Linked DNA regions of Homo sapiens: all the other regions are reported to be linked to region 1. The links are microRNA targets in miRTarBase. Many come from high-throughput screens and were not tested one by one. Region 1 holds a microRNA gene; each other region holds the end of a gene's coding sequence. Distances are from middle to middle.

Region 1 (4,077 bases):
CTGTCCTAAATTAAACGATGGGCTAAGATGCCTTGAAATGCCTGCAGCAGGCCCGGCGAGAGCTTGAATGCTCAAAGGTGTCTATGCCAACTTCTGCTTCTTCAATCAAACTTGAGGCTTTAAGAGACAGGCACGAATAAGGTGTCTCTCCAGAAGGAAGGCCTGGGGGAGACGCCTGGGCTGGGGCATGGTGAGGACGCCCCAATCCAGAAGCACAGCCTCTGCCCTGGACGTGCCCAGCTGCCGGAGCCAGGCGCTGCCTCGTGGCCCTGGAGAAACTCGCCTTGGTCTTGCAGATGGAGTCATCCAGGACACTGAGACCCCAGACACCTGGCTTGGTGGCGGCTGTCCCACCCGAATGCTTGGCCGGGCTTAGTGGCAGAAGCCTTGGACTCCAGGTAACAGGGACAAGGTGAGCTTTCTCAAAAACACTGATGGGTTAGCTCCCTTCAAACTCAAATGCAAAAGACCCCCCGGCATCCTCCCACCCTCTCCCTGAAAAGATCTCTTCCAAATGCCTTATGGGGGATCTTACAGGCGAACACATTGTTTAGTTTAAGCCTACTGCCTGGATTTCAAATTCATCATGAAATAAATACTTGGATTCAAAAGATGAAAACAACTGAATTACAACAGATTTCTCTAAATCTTGATAATCACCAGATTCATGTGAAATGTTTGTTGAAAAGAGAGAGCCTAGGCCCCAAACCAGATGTCCCAGGGAAGAAGGGCTTGGAAAACATGTAGTATTAACAAGCACCCTGGTGATTCAATCAGCAGCTGGGTTTCAGAAACTTGGCTTTGAGTTCTCAACTTACTTTGAAGATTTGAAAACAATATAATTTCAAATATTGGCAACTTCAGCAGCACCCAGGACTTCTGAGGTGCTCAGACCAGGCCAGTGGGATGCAGAGGTTTGCACCTCACATAAAAAGGAGCCAATTTCACAGGGCACAGTGGCTCACACTTATAACCCCAGCACTTCGGGAGGCTGAGGTGGGTGGATTGCTTGAGCCCAGGAGTTCGAGGCCAGTCTGGGAAACATGGTGAGATGCCTGTCTCTACAAAAATTAAAAAAAAAAAAAAAAAGCAGCCAGAAGCAGGAATTCACAGAGAGGCATGTGCATGCACACACATGTGCACACACACATGCACACACACACGTACACACACACATGCACACTCCAAAGGAACCTGCTTTAATATTCCTAAAATGCCTGGGAACAAAAAGCCGTTCTTACTCTCCACTCCTTACCTCCACCCTGCAGCCGCCCGTGGAGGGACCGGATGACCTTGGCACTTCCGAACCTCTTGAAGCGGGCTTTCACATGCTCATAGTACCACTCCAGTGAGCCGATCTTCACGACTCTGCAGGGACAAGCACAGGCTCATGGCACTGCCTGAGTGCTGTACACAGGCCTGCATAAATCTCACACACACACACACACACACACACGAGTGTGTGCATGTGTGCGTCCACCCTTCTTCAGCTAGCCCCATGGAAGGGACACGCCAGATCCAGAAACTATCAAGGTCATTTTACCTCAAGGCCTGGGCTCACCTGGCCAGATGGCAGGGGTCACAGATCCAGCCCTGCTCCTCCGGGTGGACGCGGCCACAGCTTTTGCAGGTGAAGAGGCCACATTCCAGGCACTGCCTTTTGCTATTCACAAGCAGCTGGTAGGGCTGCAGGCAGCGGGCGCAGTGGGTCTCGTTCAGATGGGCAGTGTCGGAAAGCAGCTCCCTCTTGGAGCTTTCCTTCTTAATCTTGCCCTTCAACGCCCTTGGGAAAATATCAGAAACAAGAAATATATTGGGCATCTTGTTTTTGCAACAGGCTTTAAGTGTGTACACGTACATACACACACACACAGACACAGACACATACACACACACAGTAACTGTCTCCTATGCAGAAAACAGTGACCCAACGTTGGGCAAAGCCACACAGGCATCTTTGTTTTGAGGGCTGAGCTCAAACGGGCAATTTTGGTGGCTGGAATGGAATGGAAACACGTTAATTTCATAGAAATGATATTGCATTTAAGCATTTCTGTGGCTGTTTACAATTGTACCAATTTTGGTTGGCAGGTCACTGCGCCCTCCCCAGGGCAGTCACAGAATCCTGGGGGCAAAGCCAGATGGTGTTTCCTGATCAAGCATTGTTTTGGTCTCCTTCAGCAGGGGGGCAAGAGTTGAGCTAACGCCCCAGGTTTGCTCCTCTAGAGCGCAGCTGAAATGGCTCGGTGAGTTTCCAGAGCAGGAATCATCTAGCACCCGGAAGTCTACAGTTCTCCTAGACCATCCGAGTTTAAATAACACAGCTTCCTGGTGAACCTGCCAAGTTGAACTGATTGGAAAGTGTATCCTTAGATGATAATGAACACATTTCTTTTGTTCTAGATTTCAGAGAATGTCTGCCAAACGTAATATTTTCAGTTTCAGATGAGATAAAATTAATCCATTCTTAGTGACAAAAACAAGAAGGACACTAGGTGCCATTGTCTTCTGAGAACTCTGAAGCACACTGATTTGGAGGCGGACACCCAGAGTGCAGCAAAGGTGAAGAGAGTGGAGGAGTCCCACCAGGCAGGGGGAGGCCACCTCCGGTTTCAAGTGCAATTGGCTGAACTTCACGATTTTCCTCTCTCCACTATTTACAAAAATGTTCACTGAGATGGACACGAAATCAGGCTCTTGTCATAGCTTCAAAAACCAAGAGAAAAAGGGTCAAGCAGTTGTAGGAATCTAGGGGGATACCGCCATCCACAGACTACAGTTTAGATAAAGCTGCATTGACAAGGTAAAGTCTTTGTCCCAAACAGAGGAGCACAAGTCCCTGGAGCCAGATGGGAAGGGCCTCACTCCCTCCATTTCCACCCTTGCCAGCTCTGCACCAACCAGAAAACCTGGAGGCCACCCCTTCGCTGGACAGGGCTTGTTAGCCTCTGTCCCAGGGAGAACCTCTTCTTCTGTATCCAGGCAGAACGGTACCCTGAGGGCCAGCACAGCAGGAAGAAAGACAAGGACATGTGTACTGCCCTGCATTCCAGGCTGGAGGAGTCCTCTTAAATAAGAGCCCAGAAGTGTCCTGGGGCAGCAGCTGGAGGCTGATATATTTCAGAGGCTGAAATTAGGGGAAAGGAGAACTGTACTGTGCTTTAGATTCTTTAAAACATAACTTCCCTTCTTCATAGCCAGAGACCAGGAAGGGAGGGCAGAGAAGACTCCATTTGGGGAGACCAAATGACATCTGCCAGCCACTCCAGGACGTATCAACAAGACCCGGAGCTTCCGATCCTGAGGAGTGAATGGGGCCAGAGCACTCCATGCACTCTGCTAATTGGGTTGACCAGAAGTCACTCCTCAACAGGCAAGAGCCCGGCACGTGGCTCCAATTTAAAGTTAGCTTCAGGAATAAAAGACCCTCCTGAATGTGACTTACCATCAGAAACAGACTCGAAACAAGTCAGCTTGGTGTGCTGAATGGGGCATAAGCAAGTACGTGCAGTCTCAATGAGAGGGACAGAGGAGACACAGGAGGAAACCAGGCTGAGATGGGAGCACCACCGGCTATGCTGGTGGAGGTGGAGAAGAACTGGTTAAGACAGAGATGGCGAGAAATCACAGCTCACAATGGAGGGGGAAATGGGCACAATTTCTACCGTGGAATATTAGATCCAATGATTTCGAAGAGTGGTCTTCAAAGTGTGGTCCAGGGACCTCTCTTCTGGAGGTTCCTAAGATCCTTTAGGGGGGTGAGTCACAAGGCCAAAGCTATTTTTGTAATAATGCTGAGACATCATTTGCCTTTTCTTTGCTCTTTGATGCCTGCACTGAAGGTGTAAAAACAATGGTGGATAAACTGCTGAGGCTTTAGCACGAGTCAGGGCAGTGGGCCCAACTGCTCTGACAGTCATTAGATCCTTCATTGAAAAAGAAATGAGCTGGGTGCAGTGGCTCACACCTGTAATCCCATCACTTTGGGAGGCTGAGGAAGGTGGATCACCTGAGGTAAGGAGTTCAAGACCAGCCTGGCCAACATGGTGAAACCCCGTCTCTACTAAAAATACAAAA
Region 2 (4,077 bases), not on the chromosome of region 1:
GTGTGGAAGAGAGGTGAGGGTGTGCTTTACTTTTTGATAAAGAGAAAGATGTTTACTCATAAACCCTTCAAAAGGTATTAACAAAATGTTTACCAAACCTATTGCTTTATTTTAAAAACATAATTTGTGTTTTCTATTTGTAAGATCTGACATTTCGAGGCAATAAAAACTTCTCAGAAAGTGGTCTGCCTTATCATTCAGTGGGGCAGAGATGGCTCTTAGAAGTCCCTGCAAGACTGTCACACATTCCTGAGGCTCCTGTCTTAGGTGTGGGGAAGGGCTGGGCTGGGGCGGGGGAGTGTGAGGCTAGAGAAGCAGCAACTGTGGTCTTCCACAGGAGCATCTCACTGTTGCCAGACCTTACCATCTGGGAGGGATATTTTTTAAAGACAAGGCTGTAAAGGTTACTGTTTGCCTACATGGAGGGACTGCAACTCAACATCCAGCACGACCCTGACCTCTTTCCATGCTGTGTACGCGCTGGAATGTGAGTGACTGCTGATGAGAGAGTCCACTGTTGTTTCTGGCTCTGCCTCAAAGGGTGGTTGAAATGTTTGTTCTCTGATTACCTCAGCCATGCATCAGCTTGCTGTGGCTGGGGCCCATGGCTCAGTCCCAGCAGCTGCAGTCTTGCGTTACCATTTTTCTTCCTAACTGGCCAACGTCCTGTTACTCATCCCTCCCCAGTTGTGATCACCTTGTGCGTGTTACTTGAATATGCTGCTACTATCATCTGTGTTCTGTACATTCTTTCCATAGAGAGTTGTACTGTGCCTGTGGTATTCTAGCATCATATTTATAGCAACTCGTAGCTGGGGAGGAACAATATTATGATTCTATTTTAAATGATCTAGGAAGGGACCCAAGCCTGGGCTGTTAAGAAATCTAATATCCATAGTGTCTGCTAAATACTCTAACTGTACATCTCTTTAGATCCTTTGGGTCCCTGCCTTTACTAATCTGGAATCACTTTTTTTTTTTTTTTTTTTTTTGAGATGGTGTCTTTTTCTGTCGCCAGGCTGGAGTGCAATGGCGCAATCTCGGCTCACTGCAACCTCCGCCTTCCTGGTTCAAGCAATTCTCCTGTCTCAGCCTCCCAAGTAGCTGGGACTACAGGCACACGCCACCATGCCCAGCTAATTTTTGTACTTTTAGTAGAGACGGGGTTTCACCATGTTGGCCAGGATGGTCTCGATCTTTTGACCTCATGATCTGCCCGTGTCAGCCTCCCAAAAGTGCTGGGATTACAGGCGTGAGCCACCACACCCGGCCAGGGCATCACATTTTCATGACACATGCTCAGAGGACCTAAATCATCCAATGTTTTCATTCACTCCTTTCATAAGGTCTTCATGTGGATCTGTGTTCAAACATTAACTGTCATCACTGCTTTTTTACTGCCTCCTAACAATATAGCTGACAAGTAAAGAAAAGATAGTTCTTACCATTGAGATATTTTTCTAGATACAGTGTTCTGGGCATATGAGGCCTGGAATTTCTGCAACCAACTTTGGTACCATAAAAGAAGTCAGCCTGAGGATGCCAGCACACATAGGTAGTGCTGAAAGAATCGTAAAGAAATGGAGCTGGAGTCTTGATCAAACCCTTCCTGAAGCTAATCTTGTAATTTTTCAGTTATATGAGCCAGCTATCTTTATTGTTTAAGCTAGTTTAAGGTAGGTTTTGTCCTTTCACCTAAAGAGACTTAACTGATAAGAGAATTCCCAATGTATTTAAGTGTAAACATCAAGCTTCTTATCACACCCTTATAAGCCCCTTGCCTCCTTTTCTGACCTTTTCTTTCACTTCCTAACTCTTCACCATGCTGTGATTACATAGTTCTTATTCCTTGAATAAGACTATTCTACCTTCCAGTTGCTGCTCCCTCCTTTCTAACGGCCTGCTCCATATCTTAAGACATTTAACTCCTGGGCATTCAAGTCTCAGCTCAAATCCCACCTCTTAGCCTGGACAACATAGTAAGACCCCATCTCTTCCCACCCCCAAAAATGTTAGCTGGATGTGGTGGTACACACTTGTAGTCCCAGCTACTTGGGAAGCTGATGCAGGAGGATCACTTGAGCCCAGGAAGTTGAGGCTGCAGTGAGGTGTGATTGTGCCACTGCACTCCAGCCTGGGTGACAGAGTGAAACCCTGTCTCTAAAAAACAAAAAAATCCCATCTCCTCAGGGAGGACTTTCTGATGATCTAATTTAAGTTACGTTCCCCACTGCCCACCCCACATTCCTTCTTGACCAAAATACCTTGTGTTTGTTAGAGTTCTTATCCCTATTTGAAGTTCTTTATTTTTGTGTTGGCTTGTTGATTCTGTTACCTTGACTATAATATAAGGCCCACAGGGCAGGGGCATTGCCTGTGTCGTTCATTTCTCTTTCCCAAGTGTCCGGCATGGAGAAGTACTCAACAAATATTTGCTGAAATAGCAATGGCCTTTTGGATACACACACTGTGTATGAGGGTCCAGCTGGGGGAGGCCCTCTGGGTAGGGTTTAAGAGCAACTGTCCATTCCAGTGCATTCTCCTCGGGGTTTAGTTGTCTTCTTCCCATGTCATGCAGTTGTTTCATCTATGCTGCCTAGTTCTATTTTTTTGTCTCTGCTCTCTCAAGAATCTGTTTCTTCTTTAGGAGGAAATAAGAAAGGGCACTTAGTGTTTAGTTGTGAACGCAGACTCTTGAAGGTGAGAAAAAAGAAGATTTGACTTCAAGAATACAAGAGGAATGAGCAAATGACAGTAAGGAGCCGGAGGCAGCCAGGCTGACCTGTGTCATGAGCTGTCCTACTCACTATGGTGTATTCAATCAGGCATAAAGCTGTGATTCTCCTAGGGCTCAGAGGAGGCAGCCATGCTCTTGTCTTAGCAGAGGTCAAAGTACAAGAACTGATCAGAGCAGAGGGTTTTTCTATTTATTACAAAAGTTGTTACACAAATACAGCTGACCAGAAGGTCTAAAAACAGCCCAGACTCTTCCAACCCTCATGCATCTGTAGATAGAAGGAGAGCTGTGGTCTTGCTCACACACAGGGGAGCCCTTCTTAGAAGAACTGCCTGTCCCTTGGAAGGTTCAGAGTCTTGGGTCCAGCAGCAGAGAGGAGCCCAACCTGCGTGGACAACCCCTTGAGGCAGCCCTTGGTCACAGCTGCTCTGGGTGGGCAGCAGGTTTAAGTTTCATAGTTCACATGTTCCCACCACACAAGTCAAATCAAGGCATGAAAATAAAAGGGAAAAAGGGGAAGGCTGGAAAAGGGAGCCTGGAAGAGGTTGCAGGTAGGGGAAGGAGACACAGTGGGCTTCCGAGAAGCTGGCAATTTCTTGACTTGGATGGAGTTACGTAGTATTCACTTTAAAATTATTCTTTAAATTGTACGTACATGTTATATACTTTTCAGTATGCATATCTTTAAATTTTAAAAATTAAAAAAAGAGGCTAAAAGTGAATAAAAGGGCAGATGATGGAATAGAAAAGAAATTAAAGAGGAGAGACGACGAAGGAAGAAGATGGCCAAGGTGGAAAACGAGAAAGTCCTGGAGGTGATAATGCTGGCCTCAGTTTCTCTTCTTCTGTCTGGATACTGGTTCTACTTCTAGATACCGGAGCCCGACCAGCATACCCAGGATGGAGAAACCTTAAATACAGAGGAAAGACTAGTGACTAACATACATACGGTACCTTTCTTCTCTCTCTCTCCTGTGTCCACCCTCTGTACTAGCTCTAGAGCTGGCACAGCTCCTGTAGGAGGTCTAGGGTGGTTGGATGCTTACTTGCCACCATCAGGGGTGCCAGGACGCCAATCGTGGGAGCTGCAGTTCCATAGACAAACAACTCAGAGAGGAAATGCCCCAGGGCAAGGAGGAAGGTCCAGAGTGTGATGTGATAGAGCCTATAAGGAAGCAGACAGAAATGGGAACCAAAGTTACTGTTTGTTCAGAACAGAGGAAAAGTATCAGACTTCATACAGACAAATAAGAACCCAGGATGTCATTAAGACTTAAAAGAAAGGACACTTGTTCCTGAGGAAGAGCTGGTTATTTGATCACAACGATATTCTCATCTAG
Region 3 (4,077 bases), not on the chromosome of region 1:
TACTACCTGCCATGGTTCTAAGAAATTACATGGTTATCAAAATTGATCTTAATAAGCTCCAAAGTATGAAGCAGGGCCAAGGGCTGTGATCAGACCCAGTCCACATCCCTCCCCTTCCTCTTCCTAGATCTTGCAAGATGGTTCCCTTGTTTACAACTCCACTGGATGATCCCTTTTATAGCCAGCAGCTCCCTAGATGCAACTGGTGACTGGATGTGAAGATGGCTACCACCATAGACTGTAAGAGCCTCTTCCCTGAAAGTGTCTTCCTTCACCAGGGCCTGCCAGTAGAGAAATGCAGGGGGCTTTGAACCTCAGCTCCAAACTCTAAAATGCCTTGCCAGCAACGTGATTGGAGCATACTGCTAAGTGGGAATCAAAGAAGCTGGAATTTCACACTGATTGCAGGAAGAGTGGCGGAGAAGGTTCTGTCTCAGATCAGGAGTGGATGGTTGGGCTAGGTTTCTAGCAGCCTTTAAGCTCCCTCCCTTAGAAGCTTTTGTTGTCTCTCAAGGAGAGACACCTCTGCCCAGCCCTACCGTTCCTGAGTCGTCTTTCATCTGGGGGAGAAAAAAAGATGTGAAAGATGGAACCTGCTGTTCTGTTTCAGCACAGCAGGCCATGAAGACAGAAGGATTCGGTGTGGATTCTTCCTCCCAGCAAAGGGTGGTCCCAGGAATCCAAGGCCCTTGAGAGGTGGGCCACCCTCGTTCCTCTCTGAGTAGGGGAGGGGGCTTCTGTTCTCAGATGTTGTTTGAAAATCTCCGAGTAATCTTAGAAGAAGACAGATGTGAGGTGCAAGCAATCCTTTCCTCAGGGGTGTCTTCGCCACTCATGGATAAGGTCGTGGCTTAGCCCTCAGAATTGAATCCAGGCTGACAGGCAGTTGACACATTTCCAGGGTGTGGAATTTGGGCACCAGGTTTCAGCCACAATTCTGCTAGGCCTGGGTGTTTCTGCTCCATAACTCCAGGAACTGGGAACCCTGCCAGTTGTTTGTTGCCTGAAGTTCATCCCACCACACTAGAGAGCAGGACGGGATTCTTCTGAGCAGCAAGATGGACCCAATCATTGCAGAACATTCTATGGGATTCCAAAGGGAAGGCTTCGGGGAGTTGCTGTCATGTGCGGGCCACCAGCATTTTTAGAGTGAGAATGAGAGGAGATGGTCTGGATCTGCGAGATGACTCGACTCTACGGTCTGTGCATGATCATGGGGGAGGTACCAGGAGCAGGCAGCTGGGGATGGTCCCCATGTGGCTCCCAGGAACATGCTCTCATTTTGGAGAGCAGACCAGGTTTTTTGTGAATAATTCAGTATTATAAAAGTAGGAGGCAGTTTCTCCCACCAGTTCAATACCAGCTGAGAGCATACTTGTTTCTCACGGGTTAGTATCTCTCAGCAATGGGGGACTGTTGCATTATTATCATGTGCAGAATGTCCAAGGTGCTTCCTCGTGGGGTATCTGGAGAGAGACCAATTCACATCCTGTGCTTTGGGGGCAGGTGTCAGAAAAGGTGCAGGTCATAAGCCTGGGCCCAAGGGAATGTCACAGATGGGGGAGGTTCCTTTATCCAACAGAGAACAGGGAGATGACCTCCAGGGTAGCTACCCAGGCCAGGGAGGCACTCCTGAGACAGTCTCTGAGCTGGCATCAAACACCTACTTCAAAATGACCGATGTGGCATAAACCCAACCTAAGGGGTCATGACATACAGCAGATTGAGCTTTTAGACGTTTCCTGCCTCAGTCCATTAGGGCTCTCTATTTAGAGTTGCCAGTCATGTGAGCTGATGTGCACTCTGGCCTTGGAATTTCAGATAAACCATGTGTATTGCAGCAATGTTGGCAGGTGAGTGGGAGGGAGACCAAGTTGCCTTTACAGGATGTCTCGGGTCCTCCACACTCGCAAACTGACTGCAGGGTCCGCACCTCCATACATGCTCCAGCTCATTTGGTCTCACCGGGGCAGGGCTTATCTGGCCCCAGGTCCCCTTGGAAGTCATGTAGGCTGACTCGGTTTCTCTGGGGTGGGGGGGCGCTGTGTGTGAGTGATCTCAGCCTTCCTTAAAGGCCATGAACAATCTTCCTTTTTGCTACGAGGGGAAGGCACAGTATAAACCTTCCAGATGATTCTCCAGAGATGTCCTCGAGCCTAGGAGATGCTCCATGCTCACCTGGGCAGTTCTCATTTTAAGCCACTGAGTTGAAGCAGTTCCAGGACAAGCCCATGGCTTACCATCTAACCGTCACCTTCCACCTGCTTTTCTCCTCAGGTTCTGCTGTGTCTCTGCCTCAGATTAAGGCGAAACACACAAACTTACTCTTGCATAGTCCATTTCACGACATCCTTCCTAGTTAGTTTACCCTAGAAATGCAAACTGCCACAACTTTGCTGAGCATCTGAGGACGGCTATTGCTCTGTGAGGTGCTCTGATGTGAGCTCACTGGAGGAGGAGCCCTGGGGGCTGCCCAGCTGCTGGTCCCCATCCTCCTCTCCACCTGCCAAGGTCCCTGTACTCTGAGAGCCACCTGACATGGGAGGAACAGAGGACTCTGTCTTAGGGGATGCAGAGTTCTGTTATCAAGGACAATGTCGGGGGCAGACGGGATGGAAAATGTTTTTAGTGGAGAGACACATGATCTGTTAAGTGTCCACACTGGGTCCAACTTCATAGTCATGGAGCCTGGTTTGAAAACCCTGGAACCTTCTGCAGTGGTTCCCTGACCCAAGTCTCTCATGACTGTAGGGCCAATGCTACTTTGGACACGCTGGATGACGCCGGGTTACTAGGTTGCTGCTGATGGCTGGGCCAGATGTCTGAGTCCCCCCACTCCAAGCCTGGCGAGGGCCTAGGTGGCCTCAGGCTATGGAGGGCACTGGTCCTTCCTGAAGCCAGCCATGGGGGAGGTAGGGGAAGTTCTCTGAACTCAAGTTGCACATCACTAATGGCTCCTTGCCAAAGCCACAGGAATATCCCTCTGGAAAAGTGAGCTGTGACAGTGCCAGGTGTCTAATGACTGTTGGTGGAAAATGCAGTGAAAGGAACCATGCCCCCCCCCCCCCCCCCCCCCGCAAAGCCAGCCATCCCTAGGTTAGGCCAGGTAATAACCTTAAAAAGCAAAAGGAGAGGCTAATAGTCATTCTAGTCCCCACGTGGGAAAGAGTGGAGAGGCTGGCTCTGCATGAACCTTCCTATATAGGGGATCACCTTTGCCTCTCAACCATGGCGCACCCAGCCTGACCTGGTGCCCACCCTCCTGCCAGCCCTGAACTACAGAAAGGTGGAGGAACAGCCCTTGCAGCCCAGGGTAGACCCCAGAAGCAGAAGGACTGTGTGTCCCAGTCTCTCCAGCGAGGTGCTGCCTTGGTCTCTCGGGTCACGGTATCATGCGGCTCGAAGACTGATTAGTTTAATCGGGGTGTTGTGTAACTGTTGGGAATCGTGTGCTCTCAGGATCACCAGGTGGACGTGGTTGTCACGCTGAGGTGAGGGGCCAGCGGCAGTGGCTGGGGTGGACGCAGCTGGTGCCACGCACAGGGCCCGTGGCTGCGGTTTTGTCGAGGTCAGAGGTCACCGCTCTGGGGCTCCACGTTGCGGGTCTCCCGGGGCTGACCCCGGGACAGTTTGGGGAAGCGGGAAGCTGCTTTGGGCCGGCTGTTCACAGGCTCTCCGGGCGGGGTGATGTCGCTGAAAGAGCAGGGAGAGAATCGGGTTAAGTCTGGGGATGAAAAGCAAATGACCACAGGCCAGGAAGGGGAGCCAGGTGTGAGGGCAGGAGGGATCTGATTGGCAACTGTGACTGGCTCATTGGATCTGCCTCTAACTGGTGCCACCTGAAGAAATGAGAAACCCCTATTGTCACGTAAACCTTTCCATTTTTTTTTTTTTAACAGCACTCCGAGGCTCCAACCAAGCTTGGCTGTGAGTCTGAGCTAGCTCATGGTACCACCGTTCCGGTCTACATTTTAAGGCTATGAAAGAATGTTCTAGGCACAGCTTTCTTCCCCACATTTTCCTTGATTTTCCAGCAAAGGTACGCTTCTAAGTCCAAGGCAACTTTGGAGAACACTA
Region 4 (4,077 bases), 120 Mb from region 1:
AACTATAATAGCACCACTACACTTTAGCCTGGGTGACAAAGTGATACCCTGTCTCTTATTTAAAAAACAAAAAGTGAGACCGTATCTCTTATTTAAAAAACAAAAAGTGAGACCCTATCTCTTATTTAAAAAACAAAAACAAAAAACGCTAACTTGGGACAAGTTCTTGGGAAATTTTATCCTAGTGTTGGTTCTGCCACTGACTTGCATCCTGTCCACATAGCTTCAGGCAATGGAATAAATAAGGTTTGAGGTTCCTTTTCAGCTCTAAAGCTTTCCTTAATTACTGCTTTTTTTTTTCTTAAGAGTTCCAGAAGACAGCGAACAGTGTGAGAGTCTCATTTCTATGCACAGTGTTTCTCAGGAGGATGGAGCTAGTTAGCTGTCTGTTGTCTGTAGCCCAGGTTTGTATGTGAGCTGGGTTTAGTATTGAATAAGGTTCTTATCTGTGTAATATTCAAAGGATTGATTTTCTATAATTAGTTGTTTGAGAGGCAATACAGCCTTAGAGGCTAAAGGGGCTAAAGCCTGGACTCCAGTTCCGTCTTCTCCACATACTAGCTGTGTGGCCCTGTGCAAGGTTCTTAATCTCTTGATGCTCCAGCTTTCTTATTTGTGAAATGGGATTACAGTAGAACCTCCCTTATGAGGGTGTTAAAATAGTAAATACTTGGTAAATATAAAGTATGTATAATAGTGCCTGACTCAAATGATCAGAAAGTTTTAACTCATTTTTATTCATGCTAAGGGTCATTTTATTTAATAATATGCTTTAGAAAAATATTTTTTCTCTGATGATAAAAGAAAAATGTAATATTCTGGTGTACAATATACTGGTTGGAAAATACTAGTCTTTATGTGTCTGTTTTACATAACTGGCACAGTGTTTATCCTCATTCTCTGACATTGCTTTGTCATTTAACAATGCTTCTGGAATTTTTTTCCATTTTTTCCATTTTAAGAAATAGTGTCTTTTATATGTCTTCGATGATAGAGTACATGACATTTAATATTTTGCTGAATGAAAGCTTGAATTAAATGTAACGTACAGATTTTGCAGGTACAAAAGTGATTATTTAGAATGAAAGATCACAAAAAACTACTAGAATTTTTCTAGTTTTTCTAAGACATCTTTAGGCAATTTATATTGAAGTGTTTCTTGATTGCTACTGAGTTTTCCCTCCCTATCTAGAACATTGTACAACTCCTGTCAGTTGTTAACACTTATATTAGGCTTGAAGGTTAAGTTTCATTATCCTCCTGGTAAACTTGCTTCTAACCTACAGCTAATGGTCCTGGTTTTCTGTTTTTCTTTAGTGTGCTGTTTTTAAATCTAGTTTATACCTGCACATGGTTTGAGCTCTAGTTCTCCAAGACTTTTTGTACAAGGCAGTTACCCCTGCCCTTCCCTGCCCTGCTCATCCTGCTTTCATTTTCTTCCCACTCTGAGGAAATTAAACTCTTAGCTGATTCTTTTGGTATTTTCCTTCTTGTCTCCCTAAGTATCATGCTTATGACTTGTGTTTCATGAGTTCTCGGTTTTAGGCATCTTCAGCTGACTTTCCCACTAAGATCAACGAGGACAGATTATTTTCAAGTTGACTCCTCCTCTGCTCCCACCTCATAGGCCTCCTGTCTCCATATCAGTTCTGCCTCCTCATCATCCCTGTGTAGTTGTTGCATAACTTTGGATAGATCTGTAGTCAGTGTTTATATTGTTGTCACTAAAAAATTGTTACTTATGACTGAGCTATGTAGGATTCGTCCTGGTATTTCCCTTATCCAGAGATTCTCTGTTACTACCCTTTTTGGAGAGTAAACCTTAAAGTCTTCTCCTGGGGTAGAGAAAAGGCACTTGGCCAACTGTGAAAAGTAAGAGAGGGCATCTGAGTGTCTGTCTGCTTTTTCTATAGACATTATACCAGTCTTCATGTTTTTAGTTGTTTCTTCACCCCTCCTTACAGAGATATCTGGTCCTGTTTTTCCATTGCTAACCAAGAGTTGGCTGTTATTTTCTCATCTCTCTACTTTTCTTTTTGTCCATGTGGTTTATTCCTTTTAAGAAAAAAATTCCAGGCTGGGCATAGTGACTCATGCCTGTAATCCTAGCATTTTGGGAGGCCAAGGAGGGAGGATAACTTGAGCTCAGGAGTTTGAGACTAGCCTGGGCAACATAGTGAGACCTTATTTCTGTTAAAAAATATATTTTTTTAACCCTTTGTTTCCTTTTTAGTGAGGTTTTGGAGAACAAGTGGAACTAAATATATGTTTATGTGCCATCTTTAAATTTAAAAAAACGTAAACACAATTACAGTAAGTCCTCACTTAACATCATCAGTAGGTTCTTATAAACTGTGACTTTAAGCAAAATTACAGCAAAACTTTTTTTTTTTGCATCAACATTATAACATAACAACACTGAACGAAAAAATGTTATTCGGGGACCTAAAGTCAGTTTCCTAGAACCTATGACATTAAGTGAGGACTTTGTATTCTTGAAAGCTTTTTAATGCTGTAATTTATGCATTATTTTTCTTGGGTATGCTGTGCATTGTTCTCGTACTCACACTTAAACCTACCCATATCCAGCAAGGTTTCAGTATTTTTAGAAGTGAGAGCTGTGTAAAGGAGAGAGTGAAGACTAGGGAGGATGGATTGCAATAGAGTAGAATAGACTGGGCAGGTGACTTTGTCTTTGCAGGAGTAATGGTGGAATATACCAGGAGTACAACTAACTGCTAATACACAGTCTTTAGTGTTGATGTCAGCTTTTGACATTGCTATAGAAGTCACATTCATAAGTTCTTAGTACTCCAAATTTGAGTATCCAGTTATTAAGTATGTATACAGTGAAAATAGGTATTTCAATTTTAAGATAATTTGCTTTTTAAAATGTAAACTATAGAAAACTAAAACTGTGAAATTATAATCTAATCACATTTCTGTGGTTTCTGTTTTTAGCTTGATAATGGAACTATACAGCGAAGAGACAATCTCTGGCAAGTTTTTGTAGAAAAAATGTTTCAGTGCCTAGTCTGAAAAATAACAGTTTGAGTTCTTTGAAACTCTAAAATATATTTTTCTCATACCTGTTTTCTTCATTTTCATAATGAAGCACTTTGCTATGTAGCTGTGTACATATCACTACAGTTATAGGAAGTTTCAGTCTACAGTCCATCCAAAGGACCAACCTGCCTTACACATCTCAAGGAATTCAGCTGTTGAAATCATTTGAACTAATCAAGGAATAAATCCTAATGTTCTGGGACTTTATTTTCACATGTTAAATGCTGGAATATATTATGAAAATGTTTTCAAGAAATCACTTAAGTGTTCATAGACCAGTATTTCTGACAGGTAAAATGCTAAAATAAGCTACCTGTAATAAGTGTGGATTATATTTTTGGGTTTTGTAGAATATTGCAAATTAACCACACAAAAAATGTTTAATTTATGCAACAAGCATGTTTGTGCAAATTTCATGGGACTTTAAAAAGAATAAGTATTTGAGAAAATATCTGGTTCACTTACACTACATTTACTGTATTATTCTTTTATAGCATTAGGTGCCTTGTATTTTAAATCTGTGACAAACCATGGCAAATTTTTAAAGGGGAAGTATTATTATAAAATGAAGAAATATGTATTTCTAAAGGCTATATTGCTGTAAACTTAATTGATAAAGCTCTGTTTAATTTAGAGTTTTGAAGAAATAGTCTCCCTTCAATTAAGAAATTTTCATAATGGAATGATTTAAATTGAAGTGACAAAGAGTATTATTAAAATACAATGTTTATACGTCTATTTGTGTATTGTAGATGTATCAAGTGATTTCTAATTTTTTTCACATATGAATGTGCCAGATTACTCTAGAACTAGATGTCTCTTCTTTAAATAATTTTAGTTTTCCTGAATAAATTTGTAATGGTTAAAGTACCAAGTAAGTAAGGCGAGAAGGGATTCTGTTTTTAAAATCACATCAGAACTTTTCCTCTACTAAGATTATAAATTAAATGTAAAATACTCCTAATTGCAATTCTTAAACTTAGGCCTTACATGTACTTATTATGCAACTGC
Region 5 (4,077 bases), 170 Mb from region 1:
ATAATCTTGTTTTTATTTTAGATTCAGATTTCATTACTGCACTCAAACGACTACAACTGGGCTTGGCGTTATTATACAATCCAAACTGTTTCCATCAGAAACGCTAAGACTCAGTGTGCAATGATTGTTATTAATAATTAGCTCCTTGGTTTCTTGATAGAAAAAGGCTATCAACAAGCATTTGTTTATCCACAACAAAAAGTATAATTAGCTTATCCCACTTAGTAAATCTTGTATGCATGCCAACTCATACCAAACTGCTACTTTTACAAAAAAAAATTGCAATAATACAGTTCATTTTTCCAGTCCTTTTTGCACAAAATTTATTTACAATGTCTACATAAATGCTCCAAGGTGGGACTATGAAAAAATACACACATGACCGATGCTTTGCTCAGAAATAAAGTCAACATATTAAAAATAAATCTTCAGTCTATGTTTTAGAGCTGCTTAAAACAGGAAGTGATGTATAAGGTGGTGGTTGTTGCATGGGGACAATGATGCTTGATGTGACAATTAGGCTTCTAAACACACGGCCTTTTGGTTTCCATGCCTCCTCCTACCAGTCTCCTTAAGACACTGCCTGCAACAGCTGATTAATCATTGTTGATGACTGCAGTTTTTCCCATCCTTCCCGATTTACATCTGTTCAGGCCAATTCAAATATGGTGAGTAAATGAATTAGACATGCAAATTCAAGCCCCAGGCTAGAAAGAGGGAGAGAGAGGAAAAGAGAGAGAAAGAGAGAGAGCGCGCGCATGGCTGAAATCCTAGGCGAGAAGAAAGATTCTTCTGCCTGATAGTTATTTTAATGCTCTAAAAATCCTGCAAATCAGACCTTCCTGTCCCTTGCAGGATAACTGTAAGGCTTTTTAATGTAAGGAGGCTTCTGGAGGAAGTGAAGAGCTATGGAAACAACACACATAGTGTGGAAAAATTTCACATTTTTTTTAAAAAATCTATAAGAAACAACGTAATATGGATAACAGTATAATAGCATTTACAATATTTCACTCTTTGTTCTCTTAATGTCTTATATAGTTATTTAGCATGTCCCCCAAATTGACTTCAGTTGGTATTTCCTGCTTTTTAAAGGTCCCTATGAAGAATTAGGGATGCTCCTTGGTCCAGAGTAGATGCCAAGAATGGAACTCCACAGTCATTGCAGAAAAAACATGATTTGAAATCAGTCACCATTGCAGACAATGCATATTCCCTTAAGCTACTGAGCATGAATGTCCATGACTTGTCCACTCATTGTTGGGTCTCCTGTATTAAGAACTGTGGGGCTTGATGCTGACATTGGCATTCCAGGGTGGGGCGGTCCTCCATGCATCATCACTGTTGGGTGGTGAGGGTGTCCAGGAATGTACGTATGCATGGGGGGCCCATGACGCAGCTGAGCAGGATGGGGGGGCATCTGGGGTTGGGTATAACTTGGCTGTCCCATACTCACACCCATTGGACCACCCCGGGCTACATACTCCCCTGGCATACTTTGCAGCCCTGTAAGAAATTCAAAAGAAAGAAACAAAAAGAAAATGTTATGAAAAAGCAATAGTGTGGTCCTGGCTATGACAATCCTATAAAAGCCAGAGAACCCTGTGATTAAGGGAACATGGTTTTGTAAAGCATTCTTTTGATTCATACAGAAGAAAATAAAATGAGAAACATCATGCTGGAAACTCACATTTTGCCACTATTTTCCTTTCATTGTCACTGTTATCAGGTCCGCCTACTGAGGTCTTATTTATTAAAAAGAATAAAATTGTTATTTGAGGTCTGGTCTGAAGAAGCACTTTTGTCTCCTGAAATATTCTCTATCAAGAATACAAGAATACACTGAGCTGGTCACCAAACATCTCACAGGCAGCTGAACTACACAGGCTCACTAAGGGTGATTACTTAGCAAAACCTGTACTTAAAAAAAGAAAAAAATCAAAACAGTTATCAATGAATTCTTTCCACATGGTTTCTTAGAGCTGGGGAAAAGAAAATCTTCACAAAACACTGTCCACCTTATAATGATTTTGAGAACAATAAGAAAAATTGGACCTAAAACAATACCCCTCCTGCTTTGAGGGGGCCTCTTGTCTTCTGCATGGATTGCTATAGTTGATGGAAACTGACAGGTGTATTGTTTCTGAGAGCTATAAGCTCCATAATCATCAAGGGTGAAAGGCATAACGCTATTGCTAAGTAGGTTCAATTGGCTTTAGTTCTAAGTAATAGTGCACTGTGAATACGATGAACACCTTCGAATAAGGTCTCCAGGCTCTAACAATGAATGGCTGCTTAATCTAGCCTAAAGGAACATTTTTGAACTAATGAAAATTGCTTATAAAATATACTGTACCCACAGCTCTTTAATCAAAAAAGATGATAATTTTTTTTGTAATAACCTAGTAATTTAATTGGTCACGAAGCATAAAATACATCATTTAAATTTAATTGACCCAGAAACTAAGAAACAATATTTAAATTAACTAAGCTAGAGAATTCCATGATGAGGTAATAAGACTGTTGCATTCCCCAGCTCAATGGAATGTTTTCAGAGCTAATTGTTAAACTTATATTTGACTCACACCCAGAGAAGATGACCAGTACGAATTACCCCTGGCCTCAGCAGTGATTTTAAATAGTGCATAAATATAATCAGAGACACAAGCAAGACTCTGAAATAACTGCTTTTAATTTCAAAAACAAAGCAAGAACAGTGCTATTAGGGGTAATTTAGGAAGTGAACAAGAGCCTTGGTGTTCAAAACAGTTTTACTTGTTTGAACTCGAATTGCTGGAGTGTCTTTATAGGAGAGAAAATGCAAGAGTGAGAATCTGGGACAGTTTTCCTAGGCCCACTTCACTAGGCCTGCCACTGATGATTGCATTAATGATCTCTATTTTTGTATACTGAATAAGTCAAATCCATTTGTCACACTGCAAGTGATGGCATACTTAATTTGGATATAGTCAATTAGCCTGGGCTAAGCCCCGCAGCCTGCTGTGCACACCTCTATTTTGTATTCTCCCTTTTCCCATTGCCACACGTAATCCCATTATGATGGACAGACAAAGGAATAAACTAAGAAAAAAAATCAAAGTTTAGTTGACTGGAGCTCAAAATATGCCTTTACTTACCCTAAGTAAAGCTTGTGTTTATTTTACCTAAAAGAAGTCTCTGTTTAGCTTTTCGGTGTCTTGCAGGTTAGTGTAGAAATGTAACTCATGCATCAACTGCGGTTAGACAGATTTATGACACTTTGGGGACATGCTCTTCCCTCTCCTTGCACTGCTGCAGACTGCTTACATTTTGCAAATCAGTCTGTTGCTATGACAACCCACTCCCCCACCTCCTGACTGCTTCTTGTTTTGTCATGTGGTCAGTACTGTACAATAGCAACACACAGGATAAATGTACATCATACACAGTATTTATAAGCTTAAAAGCTTGATCACAACCAAAAAGAAAATGATGGAAGCAAGAAACCAGGAGTTTAATGGAAAGGAATGAACAAGCATGAAGCTATGGGCAAGGAGAACATAAGAAAATGCAAGAGGAAAAATATTCCTAGGACAAAGTGAAAACAAAGACCCCATTTGTACTTACTTCCCCCTTGCTTTGCGATTGGTTAACTAGATGAAGGTTACATGTAGTGCCACTGCCCCTCCATGCCCATATTCATGCCCATTCCACTCATAGGTCCTAGAAGGGAGATAAAAATCCAAGAAGAGGCCAGAAAATGAGCAAAGTCAACAGATAGTGCCAAAAGACCCTTAAAAAAAAAACAGGATCTAGAGGGTTGAGAAATAGTGAGATCTTCAGTGCATAAAGATCCTGGCTTCCCCTCTGCAATATCTTAGATGCACAGATAGCAGACAAGGCAAGGCAGCCAGCTTGAGATAACAGAAAAGGATGAGGCGGATTTACCTGTGTTGATGAGGGGATGACACTCTTGGAGTCAAAAATGAGGAACTACCACAAAAACAAAGTCTTACCTGGTGCTCTAATTCCCATATGTTGCTGACCGTCCATTACGAAACCTCCCATGGGCTGTCCATCAGGATTATAAGGTGTTCC
Region 6 (4,000 bases), not on the chromosome of region 1:
GAGGAAGGAACTGGCCCTCTGAAAACTGGTGGTTGCCTCTAGGTTAACAGGCCACTGACCATGAAGAAGGAAGGGATCCAGACTCGGAACCGGAAGATGTCCAACAAGTCCAAGAAGAGCAAGAAAGGGGCGGAGTGCTTCGAGGAGCTGTCAAAGTGCATGCAGGAGAAGTCATCCCCCTTCAGTGCAGCTGCCCTGGCTGGACACATGGCACCTGTGGGCCACCTCCCGCCCTTCAGCCACTCCGGACACATCCTGCCCACTCCGACGCCCATCCACCCCTCCTCCAGCCTCTCCTTCGGCCACCCCCACCCGTCCAGCATGGTGACCGCCATGGGCTAGGGAACAGATGGACGTCGAGGACCGGGCACTCCCGGGATGGGTGGACCAAACCCTTAGCAGCCCAGCATTTCCCGAAGGCCGACACCACTCCTGCCAGCCCGGCTCGGCCCAGCACCCCCTCTCCTGGAGGGCGCCCAGCAGCCTGCCAGCAGTTACTGTGAATGTTCCCCACCGCTGAGAGGCTGCCTCCGCACCTGACCGCTGCCCAGGTGGGGTTTCCTGCATGGACAGTTGTTTGGAGAACAACAAGGACAACTTTATGTAGAGAAAAGGAGGGGACGGGACAGACGAAGGCAACCATTTTTAGAAGGAAAAAGGATTAGGCAAAAATAATTTATTTTGCTCTTGTTTCTAACAAGGACTTGGAGACTTGGTGGTCTGAGCTGTCCCAAGTCCTCCGGTTCTTCCTCGGGATTGGCGGGTCCACTTGCCAGGGCTCTGGGGGCAGATTTGTGGGGACCTCAGCCTGCACCCTCTTCTCCTCTGGCTTCCCTCTCTGAAATAGCCGAACTCCAGGCTGGGCTGAGCCAAAGCCAGAGTGGCCACGGCCCAGGGAGGGTGAGCTGGTGCCTGCTTTGACGGGCCAGGCCCTGGAGGGCAGAGACAATCACGGGCGGTCCTGCACAGATTCCCAGGCCAGGGCTGGGTCACAGGAAGGAAACAACATTTTCTTGAAAGGGGAAACGTCTCCCAGATCGCTCCCTTGGCTTTGAGGCCGAAGCTGCTGTGACTGTGTCCCCTTACTGAGCGCAAGCCACAGCCTGTCTTGTCAGGTGGACCCTGTAAATACATCCTTTTTCTGCTAACCCTTCAACCCCCTCGCCTCCTACTCTGAGACAAAAGAAAAAATATTAAAAAAATGCATAGGCTTAACTCGCTGATGAGTTAATTGTTTTATTTTTAAACTCTTTTTGGGTCCAGTTGATTGTACGTAGCCACAGGAGCCCTGCTATGAAAGGAATAAAACCTACACACAAGGTTGGAGCTTTGCAATTCTTTTTGGAAAAGAGCTGGGATCCCACAGCCCTAGTATGAAAGCTGGGGGTGGGGAGGGGCCTTTGCTGCCCTTGGTTTCTGGGGGCTGGTTGGCATTTGCTGGCCTGGCAGGGGGTGAAGGCAGGAGTTGGGGGCAGGTCAGGACCAGGACCCAGGGAGAGGCTGTGTCCCTGCTGGGGTCTCAGGTCCAGCTTTACTGTGGCTGTCTGGATCCTTCCCAAGGTACAGCTGTATATAAACGTGTCCCGAGCTTAGATTCTGTATGCGGTGACGGCGGGGTGTGGTGGCCTGTGAGGGGCCCCTGGCCCAGGAGGAGGATTGTGCTGATGTAGTGACCAAGTGCAATATGGGCGGGCAGTCGCTGCAGGGAGCACCACGGCCAGAAGTAACTTATTTTGTACTAGTGTCCGCATAAGAAAAAGAATCGGCAGTATTTTCTGTTTTTATGTTTTATTTGGCTTGTTTTATTTTGGATTAGTGAACTAAGTTATTGTTAATTATGTACAACATTTATATATTGTCTGTAAAAAATGTATGCTATCCTCTTATTCCTTTAAAGTGAGTACTGTTAAGAATAATAAAATACTTTTTGTGAATGCCCCTGGCCTGTCTTGTGGGCTCCCAGGGTGCTGGGTCCCGGGTGTGAATTTGGGCAGCCAGATTGCATTGCTTTTGTCGCCGGGGTGGCTGCGAGGGGAAAGCCCCTGGAATCCAGGATGGGGCCTCTGTTGGGCCTGGGTCTGATTTTGCCACTGACGTCCCGAGGCTCCTCCCCTGAACTGCTCCCATCTGGATTTCCTGTCACTGCACCAGGGGTCCTAGTGAATGGGAAGATACTGGGGAGGTGCAGGGAGGCCGTGGTTTCTCCAGCCTGTGGTCCACCCCTGAGGGCTCAACGAGGCTCCTGCAAACCCCATCTCCATTTGCTTCCTTCCAGGTGCTGAACTTTCTCTCAGCTCTGGTTTCTGAGATATTTGGTCATCAATATTCCTGTTCATTGGCAAACTTGACCAGCAGTGTCTGTGATCACTGATGTCATTGATTGCTGTCATCTTTGATCAGTGATGTTGGTCATCAATGATAGGCACCATGACTGATATTCCAGATCAATGACATGTCTGATCATGAGAGCCTGCCATCAGAGACACCTGATGACTAACAACTGATCACCAATATTTCATCCATGCCTCTGCTTAACCATGAGTTTGATCACTGACACCCACAAAATGTGATCACGAATGTCTCTAGTGACCATCTTTGCTCACCAGTAGTATGCCTGATCATAGTATCTCTTCTCACCAATGTGTTGATCGCCAATGCGCTTTGTCACTAATGTTCTAGGGCATCAATAAGTATGACCACCAATGTAATTGATAAGTGTTTTTTCTGGTGATAGACCAATCACTCACATGTAATCTCCAGCATCTCTGATCACACTGTTTCTTATCACCAGTGTTTCTTTAACAATGTCCTTGGTCAGTTGTTTCTGATCACCATTACTTCTAACTAGCAATGTGCCTGATGACCAATGTCCCTGATCATAGGATCCTCTCCCCATCATATTTCCTATCAATGTAGTCACTGGTGTTTCTGGTTCTCAATACCCCTGATTGCTCAACACTGATCATCAAGATCTCTTATCACCAATGTCTCTGATGCCCAACATCAGTGATTGCTGAATCGTCTTCAAAGTCTCTGCTGACCAATGTTCCCGTTTTCCAAAGTCCCTTATACCTCTGATCACTGACCTCCCTGGTCATTGATATCCCTGGTCATCAGAATACCCAGTCACCAATGTCTCTGATCACCAAATTCTCTAATCATTGATGTCTCTGCTCACTAGTGCCCTTGATCCCTGATGGTCTGCATTTGGTTCTCTTCACCAAGATCTCTGGACCCCATGTCTCCAGTCATTGAATCTGGTCACTAATATCTCGTATACCTTTGGCCACCAAGGACATGGACACCCAATACTTTCCCCACTAATGCTCCCGGTCATTCACAGCCGAAGCCACCCATGCCCCCTGATCAATGATTGATGACATATTTGTTCAATGATAATTCTGGTTGCCAAGACCCCTGAACACTGGCTCCTGATGGCCAGCATGTAACACACCCCTCCCTGACCAGGTTGTGTCTGATGGACATCATCTCTGGCTGACTTCACCGTCCCTAATTAAAAATCACTCTGATTGTATGTCCCTGGTCAGCCATGGCTTCTCTTCACCTTAGTTGTCATCATCTTTGACCACCAGGATCTTTATTCACCAGGGGCCCTGAGGACTGGGTATTTCTGATTGCCACCATCCTTGTTCCTTGACAGCCCTGATGTCCACCTGGTCCAGGAGATTTTCCTTTAACTCTTCCCAATACCAGGCTGCTGACACTGGGAGGTCTCTCGCTTAGAGCTGGGTGGGCCAAAGTACCAGGAAGTTCAGCACCTTGTCCCAGCTGCCCCAGCCCATCAGGATAGACTCTGACCTCCAGACTCTGCCCTGGTGTGCCACTGGTACCCCCTCTTGTCCTTCCCTGTGAAGTTGACACTGAGTACAGAAAGGAGCCAGCCTGGGGCTTGGCAGGGTAGGCACGTGCCTCCTACCTGATGCATAGTGGCCCTAGGTCCCCCTGGCCTCCACCCCCTACAACCCCAGAGCAGGAGGCC
Region 7 (4,077 bases), not on the chromosome of region 1:
GCCCCCTCGCAGCTCACAGGCAAACCTATTAGCCATTCAGGCCGACAAAACCCCGCGGCCCCGCGCATTGTCCCGCCGAGCGCCCGGCCGCCGTCATTAGCCCTGATTACGCAGAGCCGCCTGACAGCCCCGCCGGCCGCTCCACAGACCCCCCATTCACGGCCGCCCCCGGGCTCCGCCTCACAAAAGGAGCGGAAATCGTCCGCGCTCTCGCGTCCCCGTTGAATAGAGCGAAAAGCTGCTTCTCCTCTCCTCCCGCCCCATTCACATTCTCTTTGGATACAATATTTTTTTCCTTTTTGTTAAAATTAGGGAGAGGGAACGAGGTCAAGGAAGACTTTGCTTGAGCTCTTTGCCTGTCATTTGTTTAATGTAAACAAAGAGCAAGCCCTCCCCACCCCCATCGTCTTCTCCCCTCCCTCCCAGATTTTTTATAAACAAACTGGCGAAGGGAAAGGAGGGAGTGACGGGTGGAAGTGGAGTGGGTCATTAAAGTGGAGGCGAGAGGAACTGCGGCATTTGGGGAGCAGGGGCCGTCGTTTTTTTTGGTGAAACTGGAGTGTGGTTGAAATGTTTATAAGCCGGAAAAGAGCCTGACCTGGGGCTTGGGGTAAAATCTTCACATTGGTCAGGTCCGTTGAAATATTTAATATAAAAATGCTCTTTCCACTCTGCTGGAGTAGCTGCTTTTTGGGAAATTGTGACAGAAGAATTGCAGGAAAAGAAAGGAAGGAAACCCATTATATAGAGATTTTGCCAAATTCAGAAACCTTCAGCCTTGCCATTACCTGGACTTTTTTTCCCCCCAAAACCCTGAAGACCAGAATGAAGCTGATATGGAAAAAGTCTTAAAAAGAAACCCTTTAAATGTCCTTGGGAAGATTGGAAAGATTAAAATAAAATAAATCTCTGTGAAGATCTGGACTAATTTCCAATATGTGGTCACCAAAGAATTGGTTATTCACAGAGGCAATTAGGTGCCATCACATTACAGATAAACATTTAAAAAAATCTTACAAGTAATGTGTCACCCCCTTAAGATTCTAAAGTGAAATTAAATAAATAAATATCCAGATTGTTGAAACAGAATAGCTACTTTAAAATGTAGGCAGCTTGTTAATTTAAGTAAATGGTAGCTGTAGTTTAAAGGCTTTTGTCAAAGCAGGAATTAAAAATGCTCCATCACTGTTTGGTCTTCTCTTTTTGTCCAAGCAATAAACTGTCACTTAAAAATTATTTTGTAAAGAGAAAGCTTAGTTTCTTAGTTACCCTATTTTCTTGACACTGCGGAATGGACATTTTCTTCTGCTTTTAGGTATCATTTGAAGGGGTGGGTGGAGTGGGATTTTTAGAATCTCAAATTCTTTTACATTATTCCACTAATTAGTTATTTCCCATCCCTCTAGGACTTGGAAGCATAAACTTAAGAGAAAATTTGCCAACAAACTTCTCCAAACACTGGTTCTGGACAGCCCCATAGCTAAGGGTGGGGTGGGGCTGGGGAACAAGAGTGGATATCCGTGGCTACTCCTTGTCAGATTAAGGACTAGGATGAGGCAAAGGAGGCACTTAGAGTGCAAAATTTAAGGAGGCACTCAATCTCATGTGCCTTGCACTTGCTGCACTTGCATAACCTTGACCGTGAGTCCCCTCCTGGCCTCACTCTAGTCCTCGCCAGCCCCTCGTTAGCATTCTAGGAACTACCTGGGGCTCTAGGAAACAAAATTAAGTACTGAGGAAGCTCTACAATGGGAGCCTTTCAGGACCCACAGGAGGGCTTTTGCTTGCTTTTGGAAAGAACACCAGTTTTATCACGAAAACTTACCCACTCCTTCCATGTAAAGCTCTTGTGCAAGAGAGTTTTGATTTTCAAGAATTCTCTGGATAAGGGCCACCATACACAAGGACAACATTTATAAAGCCCAAATGAGCCAAATCTATTCAAGCGATTTAGAAACCAAAAATCAACCCTTACTCTGTCCTGGGCTTCCATTGTCTATCTTGCCGTTTGGCTGCTTTTTGTCTTCCATGACTTCACTTATTTTTGTTTGGTTTGCACTTTGGCACTTCTGCCTAAAGAAGTTAGCAGGCTTCTGATCCAAAGAACATCTTCTAAGGACAGAAAGGCAAATGGAAAAGGCTGTAATTGGGGGATGGGGACAGTAAAGAGGGAAGTCAGCTCAAGTGATTTAAAGATCAATGTCAAATTTTATAATATGCAATCTGTTTCACTAGGAACAAAATTAGAGACTCTGGCTAGCATTTATTTTCTTAGTGCAAAGATGGTAGATGTTTTTGCGTTGTATATGCATGCATTTGTTCATGTATAGGTGCATACATGCATGTGCACGAGGAAAAATTAAATGCTAAAAATATTTTATGTTTTAATCGAGGCCATTACCAGGACAATGAGGCCCTTGATGACTTGTTCTATGCTTAATTCGGAGATTAGGTTTTTAAAATGCCAGTTATTTCTACAGCCTTGTTTTACCCTCAGTATGTGACATGATTACATCCTTTCCCCCATCTCAGTATCCCTCTTGTTAAAAACCATTCATTTGATTAAAACCAAATTCTGCAGCAAGAAGATGTTAGTCTAATTATTTACAACCTCTTCTATCATCTTTTGTCTTATTTTAATAATAGCTCAATCCTAAATGCAGTATATGCTCACTCTAGCATGATCATGGGTGCCTGCTGCTTTTGTATTGGAGGGGGCCTTGAAGGAGACAGAAAGCCTTTCTTGCTGCAGAGCCTGAGTCAGGATAGTTTTGCATTTTTAGAAAATAGGACTCACTTATTGAGTCCCATAGTTTGGCTTCCTAAATTGCTCCTGAAAGCTGTTGACACTTCATGTAAACGAGTGTCAAGTGGACAAGCCATAATTACCTGTGCTGGGGATGCGGGGACTTGCCTTAGAGAGGACGCTCACATGTTGCCAATTTCTAGCCTTAAATATATCACGTGTATGCATACATACATATGTTTGTATAGGTACATACATATGTTTGTATAGGTACATACATATATGCACATACGTGTAATTTGACGTGGGAGGTGGTTATAGACCTACCATAGGTTGTTTAAAACATATACCAGGAAGCACCAAAGAAGGCAAAAGATATATAGGTAAGACCTTCCGGAGACCATTTGCTCAAGGGTCCCTGCATGCCTGGTGAAGGGAATGATATTAATAATAATAAGAAGAAAAGGAATCTGAGAGCAGCTCCCTTAATTAAGAAGGTTGCCCACTAGGTTGTTTTATTGTTTGGCTTCTCCACACAGAACCCATCACCACCAGCCTGCATGTTTAGAAACAGCAAGTTCCCCAAGCTACAGAGAAACCTACCATGGCGGTCTCTTAAATAAGTAAATAAACAGCATATATATGTTTTGTTAAAAAAAAACTTTAAAGCGAAAGTTATACATATGTAACAGCGTCCTTTCGACGTGAAATACCCATGGGAGAATCTGGGCAGGCGCTCAGCTTGCAGTTCGGGTTCCGAAGGAGACTTTGCAGCAAAATCCTTAGGAAAAAGCAAAGCAAGAAGAACGTGGTGCTGGGTCAGGCCTCACCGCTGGTTCCCGTGGTCGCGGCCAAAGGGCGCCAGTGAAGCCAGGCCGGCCGCGGGGTGGGGCGGGAAACGGCAACCCGAGCCCGCGGGTCCCTGGTCACCTGGCTTCTGTGGCGCTGGATTTGCAGGTCTCTCATCTTCTTCCCCTCTTTCATTTTGTTTTTCTCGTTTTTACACTGGAATCTGCTTCTGAGCATCCTGGATGGGCAACTCAGATGTCGCACTCGCTGTCGCTGGACGTGATGGAGATGGCTGAAGTGGCCGCCTTGCTGGATAGACTGGCGGCCGGGCTGGTGGCGACGCCCAGCACCTCTGGCGTGCCGTCGCCCTCCGCCCGTAGTGCCCGCCCGGAACCCTGTGACAGGACCTGCTGCTGGAGTCTACGGGGAAGAAAGGGAACACGGGTCACAGCTCGTAACACAGCCGCCCGTCGCCCGCCCCCACCACCTCCTGCGTCCCTCCAGCCCGGCGGCTAGAGGTTCTTCCGAAGACCCCAGCAGTT

What was found. Region 1 holds the annotated microRNA hsa-miR-6811-5p (AUGCAGGCCUGUGUACAGCACU, at 1,404-1,425, opposite strand). A microRNA usually pairs through its seed, bases 2 to 8, with sites in the 3' UTR of a target mRNA and lowers its output. Matches are read on the target gene's strand: a 7mer-m8 pairs with bases 2 to 8, a 7mer-A1 pairs with bases 2 to 7 and ends in A, and an 8mer does both.
Region 2: the mRNA of ERG28 is a reported target of hsa-miR-6811-5p. Seed matches in the 3' UTR shown: 7mer-A1 at 3,283-3,289.
Region 3: miRTarBase lists SNX29 as a target of hsa-miR-6811-5p. Seed matches in the 3' UTR shown: 7mer-A1 at 403-409.
Region 4: miRTarBase lists SLC35F5 as a target of hsa-miR-6811-5p. The part of its 3' UTR that is shown has no 7-base or 8-base seed match.
Region 5: the mRNA of MEIS1 is a reported target of hsa-miR-6811-5p. Seed matches in the 3' UTR shown: 7mer-A1 at 850-856.
Region 6: miRTarBase lists GATA2 as a target of hsa-miR-6811-5p. Seed matches in the 3' UTR shown: 7mer-m8 at 807-813.
Region 7: miRTarBase lists SIX6 as a target of hsa-miR-6811-5p. Seed matches in the 3' UTR shown: 7mer-A1 at 3,698-3,704.

What each region holds. Positions count from the first base shown.
Region 1 is chr2:237,508,280-237,512,356 of GRCh38, reverse strand. It overlaps MIR6811 (microRNA 6811), which reads right to left and starts at 1,426; the gene lies at 1,369-1,426. It overlaps MLPH (melanophilin), which reads right to left. Exons shown (of 16, transcript NM_024101.7): 3 at 1,562-1,783; 4 at 1,256-1,368. RefSeq lists enhancers at 955-1,455, 1,456-1,956.
Region 2 is chr14:75,647,988-75,652,064 of GRCh38, forward strand. ERG28 (ergosterol biosynthesis 28 homolog) reads right to left here. Exons shown (of 5, transcript NM_007176.4): 4 at 3,784-3,902; 5 at 1,804-3,647. The coding sequence ends at 3,568. It overlaps FLVCR2 (FLVCR choline and putative heme transporter 2), which reads left to right. Exons shown (of 10, transcript NM_017791.3): 10 at 1-180. Among named protein-coding and RNA genes, the nearest start is that of ERG28, 11 kb to the right of the region's middle. RefSeq lists an enhancer at 359-653.
Region 3 is chr16:12,568,122-12,572,198 of GRCh38, reverse strand. It overlaps SNX29 (sorting nexin 29), which reads right to left. Exons shown (of 21, transcript NM_032167.5): 21 at 1-3,693. The coding sequence ends at 3,570. It overlaps SNX29-AS3 (SNX29 antisense RNA 3), which reads left to right. Exons shown (of 4, transcript XR_007064988.1): 2 at 3,900-4,039. Among named protein-coding and RNA genes, the nearest start is that of SNX29-AS3, 41 kb to the left of the region's middle.
Region 4 is chr2:113,714,080-113,718,156 of GRCh38, reverse strand. It overlaps SLC35F5 (solute carrier family 35 member F5), which reads left to right. Exons shown (of 16, transcript NM_025181.5): 15 at 307-404; 16 at 2,962-4,077. The coding sequence ends at 382. Among named protein-coding and RNA genes, the nearest start is that of MIR4782, 5.2 kb to the left of the region's middle.
Region 5 is chr2:66,568,675-66,572,751 of GRCh38, reverse strand. It overlaps MEIS1 (Meis homeobox 1), which reads right to left. Exons shown (of 13, transcript NM_002398.3): 11 at 3,996-4,077; 12 at 3,607-3,702; 13 at 1-1,506. The coding sequence ends at 3,644. Among named protein-coding and RNA genes, the nearest start is that of LINC01798, 3.3 kb to the left of the region's middle. RefSeq lists enhancers at 1-1,799, 1,778-3,858.
Region 6 is chr3:128,477,361-128,481,360 of GRCh38, reverse strand. It overlaps GATA2 (GATA binding protein 2), which reads left to right. Exons shown (of 6, transcript NM_032638.5): 6 at 43-1,934. The coding sequence ends at 342. Among named protein-coding and RNA genes, the nearest start is that of GATA2-AS1, 9.8 kb to the left of the region's middle.
Region 7 is chr14:60,510,962-60,515,038 of GRCh38, reverse strand. SIX6 (SIX homeobox 6) reads right to left here. Exons shown (of 2, transcript NM_007374.3): 2 at 2,189-3,955. The coding sequence ends at 3,787. It also overlaps a transcript of C14orf39 not described here. Among named protein-coding and RNA genes, the nearest start is that of SIX6, 3.9 kb to the right of the region's middle. RefSeq lists enhancers at 1-180, 3,254-4,025.